2 separate regions of the Homo sapiens genome follow, and region 2 is linked to region 1. A link means that fine-mapping ties the variant in region 1 to the expression of a gene that starts in the linked region. Tissue or cell type: unexposed skin. Region 1 holds a variant in brackets; the other region holds the start of a gene. All regions are shown on one strand. Distances are from middle to middle.

Region 1 (8,108 bases):
TCATATCCAGAACCCCTTCATCATCCCAAATAGAAACTCCATCCATTAAGCAACTCCCCATTGTTATCTTCCTTGAGTCCCTGGTAACCTCTAATCTACTTTCTATCTCCATGAATTTGCATATTCTAGGTATTTTATGTAATTGGAATCATACAATATTTGTCCTTATGTGTCTGGCTTATTTCAGTGAGCATAATGTTCATGCATGTTGTAACATGGGTCAGAACATCATTCCTATTTATGGCTGAATAATAATCCATTGTATGCATATAGCATCTTTAATTTATCCATTTATCTTTAGGCTACTATGAATTATGCTGCCATAAACATTGGTATATAAATATTTGTTTGAGCTTCTGCTTCATTTCTTTTGGATATATACCTAGTAGTGGAACTGCTAGGTGTTTGAGTCCACTCAAAATTCATATGTTGAAATCCTAACCCCCAAGGTGATGGTTTTGGAGGTGGGGCATTTGGGAGGAGATTAGGTCATGAAGGTGGAGCCCTCATGATTGATGCCCGTTCTTCCACCTGAAGTTATAGTGAGAAGACTGTCATCTATGATCCAGGAAGGGATCATAGATCCCTTCACCAGTCACTGAATCTGCTGGCACCTTGACCTTGGACTTCTCGGTCTCTATAACTATGATAAATAAATTTTTGTTGTTTATAAACTATCCAGTTTATGGTATTTTTGTTGTAGTATCCTGCATGGACTAAGACATTGGGTCATGTGGTAGTTCCACATTTAACTTTTTGAGGAACTACCAAGCTTTACCACAGCAGTGGCATCGTTTTACACTCCCACCACCAATGTACAAGGGTCCCAATTTCTTCATGTCCTCTCCAACATCCTCTCCTTGTTATTTTCCATTAAAAAAAATTATATCCATCCTAGTAGGTGTGAAGTGGCATCAGGCCTCCTGTTTTCAGGCCTCCATGGTTTCTGATGCGAAATCAACTGTTAATCTTATTAAGGCTCCCTTGTACAGGATGAGTTGCCTCTCTCTCACTGTTCTCAAGATTCTCTTTGTCTTCTGACAATCTGCCTATACTGTATCTTGGTGTATCTCTTCGTGTTTATTTTGCTTGGGCTTTGTTGAGCTTCCTGGATATGTAGACTCATGTCTTTTATCACATTTGGGACACTTTTGGCCATTCACATATAATTTCTGTCTCTCTCTCTCCCTTGTCCTTCTGAGACTCTCATAATGCATATGTTGGTCCACTTGATGGTGTTCCACAGGTATCTTAGTCTTTGTTCACTTTTCTTCACTCTTTCATTCTGCTTCTCAGAATGGATAATTTCAATTGTCCTATCTTCAAGTTTGTTAAATCATTCTTCTGCCTGATCAAACCTGCTGTTGAACTCCTCTAGTGAAATTTCTCATTTCAGTTATCATACTTCTCACCTTCATAATTTCTATTTGATTCCTCATTATAATTTCTATCTCTGTATTGATATTCTCGTTTTGTTCATATATTATTTTCCTGGTTTCCTTTCTTCGTTTCCATGATTTCTTTTAGTTTTTTGAATACATTTAAGACAGTTGTTTTTAAAGTCTTTGCCTAATAATTTCAATGTTTGAGCTTTCTCATGGACAGTTTTGTCAGTTTATTTTTTTTCCTTTGAATGCATTATCCTTTCCTGTTTCTTTGTATGCCTTGTGATTTTTAAAAATTGAACATTCAAATATTACAGTGTTTTAACTCTGGAAGTCAGATTCTTCCAGTTCCTTACGGTTTGCTTGTCTTGATTGCTGAAGGCTTAGCTTGTGTTCAGCCAGTGTTTTTGATAGAGCTGTCCTTGATTGCCAGGAGCTAAGTAAAACAAAACAAGTAAAACCCCCTCCTCTTCTAGTCTTTGTGGATTGGCTCTGTCTTGGGGCACTATTAACACTTTGGTAGGCCATTTAAAATTCCCCATGAGGCCGGGCATGGTGGCTCACACCTGTAATCCCAGCATTTTGGGAGGCCAAGGGAGGCGGATCACCTGAGGTCAGGAGTTTGAGACCAGCCTGGCCAGCATGGCAAAATCCTGTCTCTACTAAAAATACAAAAATTAGCCAGGTGTGGTGGCAGGCACCTGTAATCCCAGCTACTCAGGAAGCTGAGGCAGGAGAATCATTTGAACCCAAGAGGCAGAGGTTGTAGTGAGCTGAGATCACATCACTGTACTCTAGCCTGGGTGACAGAGCGAGACTCTGTCTCAAAAAAAAAAAAAAAAAAAATATATATATATATATATATACACACACACATATATATATACACATATATATATATATATTCCCATGAGCCTTTACTTTCTACTTGTACTGAGCCCAGAGATCAGCCAGTGGTTAGGGTCTTCTCAGGTCTTTTCTGAACATGCGTCCTGTCCTGGCATGCATGTTGCTTTCTAAACTCCCGAATACACACTGGCAGTTTTGAATTGCCCTAATTTCCCAAAGGAACTCTCTTCCTGGCTTTTGCTCCCAGACCTCAGACATTCTATTGTATGTCTGAACCTTAATCTTTTGCCCCCAGGTGGCTGCAGGTTTTGTATTCACCTTACAATGTTTCTGAGCAATGATTGTCACTTCTCCCTCTTCACGGGTTCTCAGTTAGGCAAAACGAGATGCATACCTCATATAAGTTCTTCAGTTAGCTCCCGAATAGGTTAGAACAGACAAACAAACTCCAGTAATTTGCAATTGAAGCCTGCTCTGCTCCCTCCAGAACCAGGGTTCAGGGTCCCATACTGGGAACACGGGATGCTGTCTTTAAGACTGCTGCTGAGACAAAGAGGGGATGTGGCAAGGACAAGTAAAAATGCCACAAAGTTTTCCTATCATTTTCCCCCCAATTTAAAAAACTGGCAAATGTCCTATCATTTTTAAGTTGCTTTTTCTTGGTTCAGCACTTTCTTAATTGCTGTAAACTTCTGACTCTTTTCCAGAGTTCTAGCAAAGTTGGCTCTGACAGTTGCTTCTTGTTTTTCAGTATTTCTGTAGAGGGACGGGAGTTTGGAGCTGCCTATTCTACAATTTTGCTGATGTCACCAATGCTAGTGGACGACTTGTTTCTTCTTTATGTTTCAGTTCCCTTCTTTGTACAAGGGGATGATATAGGTAGACAGCTTGTGTTGAGGCTTTCCTTTTGAGAACAGTGATCAATACAAGAACAACCTAATCCAAAAGTTCAAGACCTTTTTGTGTTAGGCTTTGTATCCACATTGGTCATAACAATGAATGACCTTTCCCCAGAATGAGCTGCAGGCATCTGTAAGTCATTTTTAAATGACCAGTGTCTTTGGAGTCCTGTAGATAAGTCATAAAGACATTCTGTTTTTTTTTTTTCTAGATATTTGTTAAGTTTTTAACTTAATTCTGAAACCCATCTCAAATTAATTTTTGTGTTTGGTGTGTTGTAGATGTCAAGATCTATTTTTCCTTCTTTCATTTATTCTGTTATTCCAGCACTATTTGTTGTAAAGGCTCTCTTTTCCCCATTATTTAGCTCTGCAACTTTAGTAAAAAAAA[C/T]GTATGTTAACCATACATGTATGAGATGATGTCTGGATTCCCTATTCTGCAATATATGTCTATTTATCTATCCTTATGCCAATATCACACTGTCTTGATCACTGAGGCTTTATAGCAAGTCTTGAAGTAGGTAGCATGAGCCTTTCAACTTTGCCCTTTATCAAGATTATTTTGGCCCTTCCTTCCTTCCTTCTTTCTTTTCTTTCTTTCCTTCTTTCCTTTTCTTTCCCTTCTTTCTTTCTTTCTCTCTCTCCCTCTCTCTTTCTTTCCTTCTTTCTGACATTTTTTCACTCTGTTACTCAGTCTGGAGTGCAGTGGTGTGATCATGACTCACTGCAGCCTCAAACTCCTGGGCTCAAGTGATCCTCCTGCCTCAGCCTCCTGAGTAGCTAGGTGTGCATTACGAGGCCCAGATAATTTCAAAAAAAATGTTTTTGTAGAGATGGGGTGTCACTTTGTCGCCCAGATTGGTATCAAACTCCTGGCCTCAAGTGATCCTCCTGCCTCAGCCCCCACACCACCCCTACAAAGTGCTAGGATTACAGGTGTGAGCCACTGTGCCCAGCCATTTTGGCTATTCCTGTATTCTTTGCTTTACCGTATAAATTTTAGAATCAACTTTGAAAAGTTATTAAAATGCCTGTTAGTATATTGATTGTGATTGCATTGAATTGCCAGATCGATTTGAGGAGAACTGACTACAAAACAACATTGAGTGTTCCAACATGTGAACATGGCATAACTCTCAATTTAGATCATTTATTTTTCTCAGCAGTGTTTTGTAGTTTTTAGTGCAGAGGCCTTCCATGTCTTTTGTTAAGTTTATTCTTAAGTGTTTTACGTTTTTTGGATACTAAGTCAATTTAAAAAAAAACACCGCTGTTCTAATTGTTTGCTGCTAGTATATAGAAAATATATTTGTATGTATATATATTTATATTGATGAGATATAACTGTGACTTTATTAAATAGTTCTAGTAGTTATTCCTTAGTATTACTGAGGATGTTCAATGTAAATAATTATGTTTTCTGCAAAGAAAGACTGTTTTCTTCTTTTCTGATCTTTATGCTTTTTTTCTTTCCTTATTGCATTAGTTGGAACGATTAATACAGTATTAAATAGCATTGTGGTGGGGGTAGATATCCTTGTGGGGGACATTCAATATTTCACCATTAGCTATGATGCTAGCTGTCACCTTTATAGATGCTTTTGTCAAGTTGAGGAAGTTCCTTTTTATCCTAGTTTTTTGAGAATTTCTAAACGTGAATGAGTGTAGAATTGTGTTAATTTTTCAGTTAAGATCATATGCTTTTTATCTTTTTTCTATTAACATGTTGAATTACATTGATATTTCTAATGCTGTACTAACCCTGCATCTTTGGAATAAATGTGCTTTGTCCAGAATAATACTCTGTCTCTCTCTTTTTTGGAATTCTGATTTGTTTTGGTCATATTTCATTAACGACTTTTGCATTCATAATCATTGAAAGCAGCTATGCTCACCACTATACCACCAATGCTGCAATTGTAATCATGATATAGACCTGTAACTTTATTTTCTTATCTCTGTCAGATGATATGATTATACTGGTCTCTTAAAATGTGATGCAAACTGCTTCCTCTATATTTTCTGAAAGAGTTTGTATAAGATTGGCATTATCTCTTCCTTAAATGTTTGATGGAATTCACCACTGAAACCATCTGGGCCTGGATGTTTCTTTATGGGAATGTTTTTGATAACAAATTCAATTTACTTAATAGATACAAGGTTATATAGATTTTCTATTTATCATTGTATATTTTTTGGTAAATTCTGCTTCAAGGACTTTTTCCATTTCATCTAAGCTATCATATTTATTGTCATAAAGTTTTCAAAAATTCCTTTATTATCCTTTTAATGCCTGTAAGATCTATAGTGACATTCCCTCTTCCACTATAGTGATACCCCTCTTGTTCGTGATGTTGATAATTTGTGATTTCTCCTTTTTGACCAGTCTCTTCAAAGAATAAAATTTTGTTCTTGTCAATTTTCTCTATCATTTTAAGCTTTCTGTTTCATTAATTTCTGCTCTTGTGTATCTTAAAACATCTCTCCTACTACTTACTTTGGTTTTACTTTGCCTTTCTTCTGCATCTTCCTTAAGTGGGAACTTAGATAACTGGTTTTAAGCCTCTTTTCTAACATGAGTGCATATAGCTACCATTTCTCTGTAAGCACTGCTTTTGCTACATCCTACAAATTTTGAAGTTGTATTTTCTCAATCGTTCACATGTTATTTCTTCTTTGATCCAAAGGTTATTTAGAGATACACTGTTTAACTTCCAAATGTTTGGGGATTTTCTAAAAATATGTATCTGTTCCTGATTTCTAAGTTAGTTGTTTCTGTGGTCAGATAACATATTTTATAAGATTTCCATTGTTTGAAACATATAAAGATGTTTTGTGGCTCAAAATATGGCTTATCTTGATAAATGTTCCATGTACACTTGAAAAGAATATGTATTCTGCTGTGGTTGGGTATAGTGTTCTGATTAGTGTTAAGCAAAGGTATGTAGTTTTGTTAAAATCTTCTAAACTTTACTGATTTCTTGTCTAATTGTTCTATGCTATTGAAAAGAAGGTGTTAAGTCTTCAACTTTGGAGATTTGTTTACTTCTTTTTTTGTTAGTTTTGCTTTGTGAATTTTGAAGCTCAGTTATTAGGGGCATAAATGGATAAGACTATTTGGTTTTCATTTATTATTTTTATGAGATATCCTACTTTATCTTTGGTAATACTGCCTGCTTTGAAATTTTTTTTTTGCCAGCTGTAGTAATAGAACCAGTCTAGTTTTCTTATGCTAAATATTTTCCTGTTGTATCATTTTCCACCTATTTACTTTCATTATCACTGTTTTTATATTTAAAAGTGTCTCTTGTAAATCATATGCTTGGTTTTGCTTTTCTTCAAAACAATTTTAAGAAAAAAAAAACAAAACAAAAAACCATTTTGACACCTGTGCCTTTTATTTGGAGTGTTTAATACACTAATATTTAATGCATGTTAAAGTTGAGTTGAGGTGTATCATTTTGTGATTTATTTTCTATTTGTCCCAACTTGATTTTAGTCTTATGTTTCTCCTTTTTTTTCCTTTTTCTGGGTTAGTTTTTTCGTATTCTCAGTCAGCCAGGGGTATGTGGAAAACTTGTCTCAACCCTTCCAGGATCTCCCCATTAGCACTCTGGTTGGTTTGCTGCTCACCCCAACTGGGACTGCATCCTTGGGCTAACAAAGCTGTGGCCTTTCCCTATTCATTTCTGAGTTTGCTACTTTTAGTATATGCAAAGTCACAAAATTTCATGCCACTTCTCGACCCTAAATATTGAAATTTAAAACTTTATAAGTATTTCTCCTCTGGCAGAAGAGCCACTGGGTTTTTGGCCAACTCCAAACTGGAAAACTACGATTCTTGCTGATTGAGCTTGATGGGAGGTGGGGGAAAGAATTAGCCTTCTGCTGTTTCTCCTTGAATCTCTAGGAGCTTTTCAACTTGCTGCCCATCTCTAGTAGATTTCTAGTTCCCTGGATGCTTTTGTCAATTTTGTCCAGTTGTATGGTTTTTTTTTTTAGTGGAGGAGTATTGCTGACCTCTTCATTCTGACATAATTGAAAGCTGATTTTATAGATATGTTTTAATAAAATATCTTTAATTTTTATTAAAAATAAAAGAAACAGTGAAAAGAACATTTTTGCTTCTTCTCTGAAACTTCTGTTGGAGGTTTCTTAAGCTGTCGAATGTCTTTTGTACAAGGATAAATGGGATAAATTCCTTTTAGGATGTCATACAGAAGGCCTCTCCCTTCCTTTATGACTTACTTGGTTCCTTGATAATAACATTCACAAGTTGAATCACAAAAAGTTAAACGTTTATAAGGAATGAATGTTATAAATTAGAATTATGTCCTTGAAACTCATTTCATACCGTAATATGCCAAGACATAATAAATGATCTCTAAAACCACACACATGTTTACTTTTACAAACATTAAGTATGTAGAATTTCATTCAATAAATACCTACTAAGGGATTGATAGGTGCCAGAGACTGGACTGGCTAAGCACTGCAAATGAAAACAAATGAACTCACTAGGTACAGCTGCTGCCCTGCCCTCACACGCCAGTGAGAGAGACGATTACGCAGGAAATTACTATCAAGTGTGTTATTGAGGAAGTACCAAGTGTTATGACTATGTCCAGTATCAATGTTTTCTCACACATTTTTTTTCTTTGAAATTCTTTATGCTTTACAAAGAAAATATAATTAGAACCTGGACTGAAGACATATCTTCTGTAGTAAGTCTGAATGGTAAATGCTTGGAGAGGGACAATTTCCTTGGGAAACACGTCATCTATTCTCAATTTGGAATGTACATTAAATCACTTGGGAAACTTTAAAAAAAAAATCCGTTTGCTTGGGCTCCCCTTCTAAAGATTCTATCTTAATTGGCCCGAGGTGAAACCCAAGAAGCACTTTTTTTTTAAAGTACTCAGGTGGTTTTCGCATGCAGCCACAGCCAAGAACCACTGTAGTCCTCACTTCCAGT
Region 2 (8,108 bases), 71 kb after region 1:
ATACGCACTATGCCAATTTGCAAGTGAAAGAAGCAATACATTTATACCATCTCCCATATTTGGTGCACTAGAAAGATGCAAACCACATGATATCTCAGAATTGGTGAACACGGTTAAAAAAAAAATCAGCTATCTTCAGAATTCACCCCTTAAGTTTGTAAGTTTGCTGATGATGGAACTGTTATTTTTACAAAGTTCAACAAAATATTGCCCTGCTATTATAAGTATCTGTTTATCAGGTATATCTTTAAAGTGATGAAGAATATTCATGATTGACTATACTGTACCACCCTTTAAAATCAACTGATTTGCCATTAAATTAACAAGCAGCCTTTGGATACACTTGATTTCCCAAGTAGACTTGTCTCTGGGGAGGCAAATACCCTGACCAGCTAGTCTAGATAACATGGTAACACATATTTCTCCATAGAAATTAATAATTTGGGAATTGTGATTTAGAAACAAGTCTCTTTTGAATTTGGATAATGTGTGTCAATTCCTAAAACCTAATAATTCATTAGTAACCCAACAAATACGATTTACTGAATGCAGACATTGGATATTCCCACCAAGGCTGAAAAGCTGCAAGAGGCTCAGGCTCTTTTTGCTCCTTCATTCAACACATGTTTATTGACTGGCTACTCTATCTAGGTGCTTAGAATACATCAACAAAACGACAAAAATCTTTGACTTCATGAGAGAGAGACAACAAACAACAAACATAATAAACTAGCAAATTACACATTAGAATTTGAGGGTTGTTATTTTTAAAAAAGAAGAAATCGGGTAAGGAAGATTGGGTTGCAATTTTAACTAGGGTGGTCGGGGCAGGCCCTTGAGAAGGTGGCATGTAAGGAGACTTGAAGGTGAGGGAGTTAGCTAGTTAGATATCTGAAGAACATTCTAGGATGGGAGCATGCCTGATACATCTGAAGAACAGCAAAGTCCCTAGGATGGGAACATGCCTGATACGTCTGAAGAATAGCAAAGAAACCAGGACAAATGAGGCAGAATGAAGGAGGGGAAAGAGAGTAGATAAGAGGCCAGAGAAGTAACTAGGGAACTAATCACATAGGGCTTCATAAGGAAGGGTAAAAGAACCTGGAAAGGTGTTCATCTTTGCACCACCACAGTTCTGTCAAGGTGGAAACCTGGCCCAAGGCCAGTCAATTCATTGGCCAGCCAACAACCAATCTTAAATTTCTAACTTAAATTTTCAGCTACAATACACAAAGACGCTATACAATTGGTGGTGAGCTTTAGGGCTAATTAGTCAAGAAGCACGCCACCCTAGTCCCTATCATAGTAAGAGAAATCCATACACAAGAGGCTTTCTGTCAGATGGAAGGAAGCAAGCATAGAGATGTGTTGCTTAATGATGGGGATACGTTCTTAGAAACGGGTTATGAGGTGAGCTTATCGTTGTGTAAATATCAGAGGGTACTTAACATAAACCTAGCTGGTATAGCCTACTCCACACCTAGGCTATATAGTATAGCCTATTGCTCCTAGGCTACAAACCCATACAGCATGTTATTGTACTGAATACTGTAGACAGTTGTAACACAATGGTATTTGTATATCTAAACACAGAAAAAGTGATGCATTGGGCTACAATGTTATGACAGCTACAATGTCACGAAGTAATTGGAGTTTTTCAACTTCATTATAATCTTATGGGACCATCCTTATACATGTAGTCCACTGTTGACCGAAATATCATTACTTGGGGCTTGATTATACATAGAAAGAAGGCTAGAGTTGCCAGATAAAATACAGGATGCCCAGTTAAATTTAAATTCAGATACACAATGAATAATTTTTTAGTATAAATGTGTTCCAAAATATTGCACAGGACAAAAATTTATACTAAAATATTATTCATTATCTGAAATTCAAGCTTAACGGTGCCTCTTGTATTTTTATTTGCTAAATGTGGCAACCCTAACAAGGTGAAAGGTCATAAGGTCAAAGAAAGAAAGCAGGAGAGCACAGCATCTTAGTTCTGATTTTCCCCATCCAGGTTCTCATCCGCCCTGGCTATACTTCGCTTCCTGTCCATGACTAGCGGCGAGATTGTTTTATAACAATCCAAACTTTTATTTGATCTACTCTGAGTGAATTTCTGTTCTTAGCAAGGGACATGGAAACATTTAGCAATTCCTCTGCAAAAGAGACACTTCGGCATCAAAGAAACAACCAGCTTAATAAATACTTTGGGGAGATGTTTGTCCTCCTTCTCAAATTACCCGTGAAAAAAAAACATGGTGATGTGTTTACAGGAGCTAACTTGATTTATTTCACAAAACCAAGAGTAAATACAGAAAAACACTGGCCAGAATATGTCAGCAATCATTACACAGCCTCTATCTAGGAATGTGTACCCTAGATTCCCACACAAAGGAGACTGGGATTCCCAGAGGCAACACCACATTGCTGAAAGCAATGCAAGGTTCAGGTGAAAAACCTGGGATTGCAGAGGGCAAAATTGGAAAAAATCATGCTTATAGCTGGTTACAGTTCTTGCCACGGCAAATTCAATAAACATTTATTTATTGAAGCGCCTAGTATATGTATCAGCACTAGAATAGGTGCTCAGAAGGCTACAAAAATGTGTAGAACAGGAACTTAAGGAACTCAAGGAGCGTGGAGAGAGAGAAAACATAAAATGGACAACCAAGCCGTTAAAATAAACTGGGGTTTTATTGGCCCAAGAGGAGCCAGCGGACCCAGTCTATAAGCAATGCTTTGACGCAGAAGTTAAAAAAAACAAACAACAACAACAACAAAAAACCTAAAAACAAGCATGGGATAAACTGGCACTTCTTTTCGCCCAACTTGGATTTGCCCAGAGAGTTGGAGAGAAAAGATCATTTTTGTAGGGCATTTTATGCAGGAACGTTGAGTGAATCTCCGAGTGTACAAATCGTTGCACACTTTCTGGGTACCAAAACGCCCGGAACAGGTTTCAGGAAAATCGCCCCCCGAAGCGGAGCGCACCCGCGCCTTTCGATGTACCCGAACCCCCGACCCCAACCTGAGTGCGGCCACCTGGAGGGCTCGGAGCTGCCCCCACCCGACCAAGGACAACCGTGGGCAAGAGGTCAGTCCAGAGGGTCGTGTTTCGTTCGCCATGCCCCTGGCCAGGTCCCACCATCTGGGAGCCCACCTGGCCTAGGAGGCGACGGACGCGGAGGAAGGTCTGCGGCGGTCCTTACCGTACAGAAAATCATACGCTCGATTGGAGGAGATGTGGCTCCCAGCCCGCGACCTCTCCCGGTACCGAGTTTGAGACACCTGCGGCTGGGCCTGGGGCTCCTCGATGGTTACTGCGTGGCTCATGGTGCCGCCTCTTTCCTCCCGCCAGCAAGGGACCAGCGGGTCAGGCCTGGCTACTGCGTGCACGTCGCTATGGTAACGGCCGCCGGCGCGCAGGGATAGGGGGCGGGGCAAGGAGGAGGGAGGAGGCCGCGGGGCGGGGCCGAAGAGGAGTGGAGAGAAGTGAAAGCAGGAGTGGCCAGGCCAGGGTCAGGAGGAGAGTGGAGGGGAAGATGAGAAGAGAGGGGAGGGGCAGGATGGGGGAGGAAAAGGCTGGCTTCCCTCTATACTCCAGAGCCAGCGGGGAGGCTGGGAGAAAGCTACTCTTAAGTCATTGATTTGCCAGTTACACCTCGTAGCCTCTCGGAAATCCCTGGGAGATCTCAGAACCTTCTAGAATAATTGGGTGCCTCCCCGCCCCTCCCCCCAGCCCTTTTCCAGGGGGCTTGTCCCGAGAGCTGCGGAATCCAGTCAGGTTCCTAAATGTTGCTCCTTAGCACGCTGTGAACTTTGCCCCACACTCATTAGCATCAGTGTTTAGGATGGGTTAGGACATCAGTAACTGTTGATCTGAGACTGCTGACCCTTTCTGAGTCCTGGGCATTAAATAACAGAAGATGATGTGGGGTAGGCACTGGCTCTGCTTTTGAAAACTATTTATAATGGAAAATTTTAAACATAAGCAAAAGTGATTCTACTTTTAATAACAAACCCTCAAGTAACCCATCCCTCAGAATCAACATTTAGCAACATTTTGCCAATCAAGTTTCAGTTTCCTTCCCCTCTTTTTTAAAGAAATCCTAGACATAATATTATTTTACCCTTAAATTAGTCTGCATCTCAAACTGACATAGATTTTAAAAATTTAACTACCGTTATCATATCTAACAAAATTAACAATAATTCCTTAGTACTATAAATAATTCCAATTTTCCTGTTTGAGTCCAAATTATCTTTTATAGTTGGTTTGTTCCAGTCAAGATCCAAAAAAAGTCCTCATGTTGCATTTTGGTATGTCTCTTAAGTCTTTTATCCTAGAGCAGTGAATTTCTAATCCTTTCAATAATTCTCTATTATTACCAGAGGTTCTTCTATAAAAGGAATCTTTTCATACCAACTCATTGGTTATCCTGAGATAACCAGGATAATCTCATAGAGGAAAGACTGGGTAAATGCTGGATTTGTTCTTTTTAATTATGAAATTTCAGAGACATGAGTTGGTGCCCTACCAAACTCCAGAGTTAACCACAAAGTTTTTGTTTGTTTGATATCATTATGAATGCATGCATTTTTTACAGATCTGATGTTTTAATCCGTTATGATCATTATTATTTATTACACTCAGATTATTAAAGCTAATGGCATGCCTTAGAGTTGGCTTCTTTGTCCTTTAATGTTGAGACGAGAAGTCTTCTTCCGATCAAAGGTTTTTCTCGATCGAAGGGTTCATGGTCTCACAGGCTTCAAGGAATGAAGCCGTGGACCACAGTGGCAAGTGTTACAGCTTCACTAGAGAAATGCGTGGACCCAAAGACTGTGCGGTGGCAAGATTTATTAAAGCCAAAGCAAAAGTAAAGGGAAAGCGAAAGTAAAGCTTCCACGTGGTGGAAGGGAACCTGGAAGGGTTGCCATTTCTGGTTTGGGTATCTTATGTTTATATCCCCTTATGACTCCTCCCCTTTTCCTTTTTCTGTCCCATAGGATTAGGTTATTTTCTATCCACTTGTGGGTTTGTAGCCGGACGAGCCACAGACAAGAACCGCTCAGACACCGAGTTATGGAAGGAAAGGGCTTTATTCAGCTGGGAGCATTGGCGGACTCACATCTTCGAAAACCGAGCTCCCGGAGTGAGCAATTCCTGTCCCTTTTAAGGGCATACAACTCTAAGAGGGTCTGCGTGAGTGGGTCGTGATCGATTGAGCAAGTAGTGGGTATGTGACTGGGAGCTGCATGCACTGGTAATCGGAACAGAACAGAATAGGACAGGGATTTTCACAATGCTTTTCCATACAATGTCTGGAATCTATAGATAACATATCGGTTAGGTCAGGGGTCAATCTGTAACTACCAGGCCCAGAGCACAGTGCTGGGCTGTCTGCCTGTGGATTTCATTTCTGCCTTTTTGTTTTAAATTCTTCTTTCTTTGGAGGCAGAAATTGGGCATAACACAATATGAGGGGTGGTCTCCTCTCTTAGGTTGGTGGGCCTGATTGGTTAAAAACATCAGGCTGCAGCTAGAGCTTAAACTCTCTATATGATTGGCTGAAGTTTCAATCCCTTAATTTGCAGCTGGGACTCACTTTGGCTTAGGGGAAAGTCCCCTTTGATTGGTTGAAGTTTCAATCCCTTAGCTTGCAGCTATGACTCATTTTGGCTTAGGGGAAAGTCCCCTTAGGGAAGTCCCTATTGAACCAGGAAGTCCAGCCAACTTAGCCACTTAGTCCCTCAATGTGATCCACAGACACTTCCTGAATACGCTTCCTGGCCTACTACTCTTTCTGCATATACTCCTGGTTTTAACTTATTGTCTCTACTCCTAAACTTCTTGGGGTTTTTGAAAACCAGCCATGTCCTAGGTCTGTCTGTGTACTTTCTTGTAAAATCCAGTTTTAGCAAAGAACCGTGCTATGTCAGTTTGGTAAGAATCCCCCATCCTAGATATCTGACTGGGGTCCTCATCCTTCGCTTTCGCTTTTCACCCCCAGGTGAAGTCTGATTACCCTGGCTGTCTTCAGCAAGAATCCTTTGAGATGAGTTTAACCAGAATTCTCTTTACCTCTGATATTTCCTCTTAGTAATTTTTCATCCACTGACCCTCAGCCTGCTCTTTGCTATAAATTTCTACTTGCTTATGCTATATTCGGAGTTGAACCCAATCCCTCCCCCAACTACAAGACCCTGTTGCAGTAATTCCTATATCTATTGCAATGGTCTTGAACGCACTCTGCCTGTCCATGCCTTAATAAGATCATTGAATAATTTTTTCTTTAACACCCCTCAACTAATTTAGGTACATTTCAACACTCACCTCTAACTTTGCCACTTCTATGCAGTTTCCTCATATCTTTCAAATACAGTGAGATATCATCCTTCCAATGCTGTAGTAGCACCAATAGCATTGACCACCTTGTATTAGTAATCAGTAATTGTTCACAACTCTGCTTCCCACAACTTTGAGTTCACTGAGGGCACAGCCCTTCACCTGGTCATTTTTGTATCTCTGAGGTATCTGGTACATGAAATCTTAATGAAATGATTACTAAATCCATCCCTTTGTTAAATAAATTTACTGAATGTCTACTATATAATAGGTGTTAAAGATTTTGAGATAATTTGTACAGCTCACTGGATGATAGAGAAAGCTGACACAGAAGCAAAGTACAATATAATAATGGTATAGTACTTTTCTGTCTGGGGTACAGCTACGTTCTCAGAGCCGCCCACTTTTCGTTTCTTCTTCTCAATGTTCCTCACTCCCACCTCCTTATCTTCTCACAGCTAGCTCCTCAACATATGACATCACCTAAAATGTTCTCTCTATACCGGAAAGGGGTCTGCATCCAGACCCCAAGAGAATGTTCTTGGATCTCACGCAAGACAGAATTCAGGGCGAGTCCATAAAGTGAAAACAAGTTTATTAAGAATGTAAAGGAATAAAACAATGGCTATTCCACAGACAGAGCACCCCCGAGGGCTCTGATTATTTCTTGATGATATGCTAAACAAGGTGTGGATTATCCATGCCTTCCCTTTTAGACCATACAGGGTAACTTCCTGACATGCCATGGCATTTGTAAACTGTCATGCTACTGTGGGAGTGTAACAGTGAGCAAAACCAGAGGTCACTCTCATGGCCATCTTGGTTTTGGTGGGTTTTAGCCAGCTTCTTTGCTGCAATCTGTTTTATCAGCAAGGTCTTTATGACCTGTATCTTGTGCTGACCTCCTGTCTCATACTGTGACTTAGAATGCCTAACCATCTGGAAATGTAGCCCAGTAGGTCTCAGCCTTATTTTACCTAGCCCCTACTCAAAATGGAGTTGCCCAGGTTTAAACGCCTCTGGCAATCTCATCAGAAAGACTTTTCCTCAGCCAGCCATGGTGACTTACGCCTGTAATCCCAGCACTTTGGGAGGCTGAGGCAGGCAGATCACCTGAGGCCAGGAGTTCAAGACCAGCCTGACCAACATGGTGAAACCCCGTCTCTACTAAAAATACAAAAAAATTAGCCAGGCGTGGTGGTAGGCGCCTGTAATCCCAGCTACTCAGGAGGCTGAGGCAGGAGAATTGCTTGAACCTGGGAGGCGGAGGTTGCAGTGAGCTGAGATGGCACCACTGCACTCTAGCCTGGGCAACAAGAGCAAGACTCTGTCTCAAAAAAAAAAGAAAGAAAAGAAGAAGAAGAAAGACTTCTTTTCCTCATTCTATCAGATAAACTATCTAAGGTAGTCAACAGCCAGCAGCCTCCATAAACACATCCGAAGACACTATTACCTTGATTTTTTTTATAGCACTGAAATGTTACTGATTTGCTTATTTATTATATCTCCTCCCACTAGAATGTAAGCTCTGTGAGACCAGAGACCTCAAATGTCCTGTTCACCCTGAATTCATCCATATCTCTTAGGCCAGTAAAACCACCTTTGCAAAAGATTATAACTGAGAAAATTATGACAGTGAGAAAAATCTGACATGGCTGAGTCCATCTTGACTCTAGCCTCACAGGTTGGCTGTCTTTGCTCATTCTGGGACATGAGCCAAGCTAACTTTGGGAGAAATTTAGAGTATACT

The links. PIP is the estimated chance that this variant, and not a neighbour inherited with it, causes the effect.
Region 2: it holds the start of CFAP91, and the variant in region 1 is fine-mapped to the expression of CFAP91 in unexposed skin (GTEx, PIP 0.96).

What each region holds. Positions count from the first base shown.
Region 1 is chr3:119,769,562-119,777,669 of GRCh38, reverse strand. No RefSeq gene overlaps it. Among named protein-coding and RNA genes, the nearest start is that of NR1I2, 8.5 kb to the left of the region's middle. The variant C/T (reference allele first, on the strand shown) is at 3,525.
Region 2 is chr3:119,698,333-119,706,440 of GRCh38, reverse strand. CFAP91 (cilia and flagella associated protein 91) reads right to left here and starts at 3,419. Exons shown (of 18, transcript NM_033364.4): 1 at 3,219-3,419. The coding sequence starts at 3,342. It overlaps LOC105374064 (a long non-coding RNA gene), which reads left to right and starts at 3,398. Exons shown (of 3, transcript XR_924391.4): 1 at 3,398-3,945; 2 at 5,020-5,249; 3 at 6,024-6,573. RefSeq lists enhancers at 3,101-3,160, 3,211-3,260, 3,254-3,933, 4,600-5,799, 5,519-5,918 and a silencer at 3,371-3,540.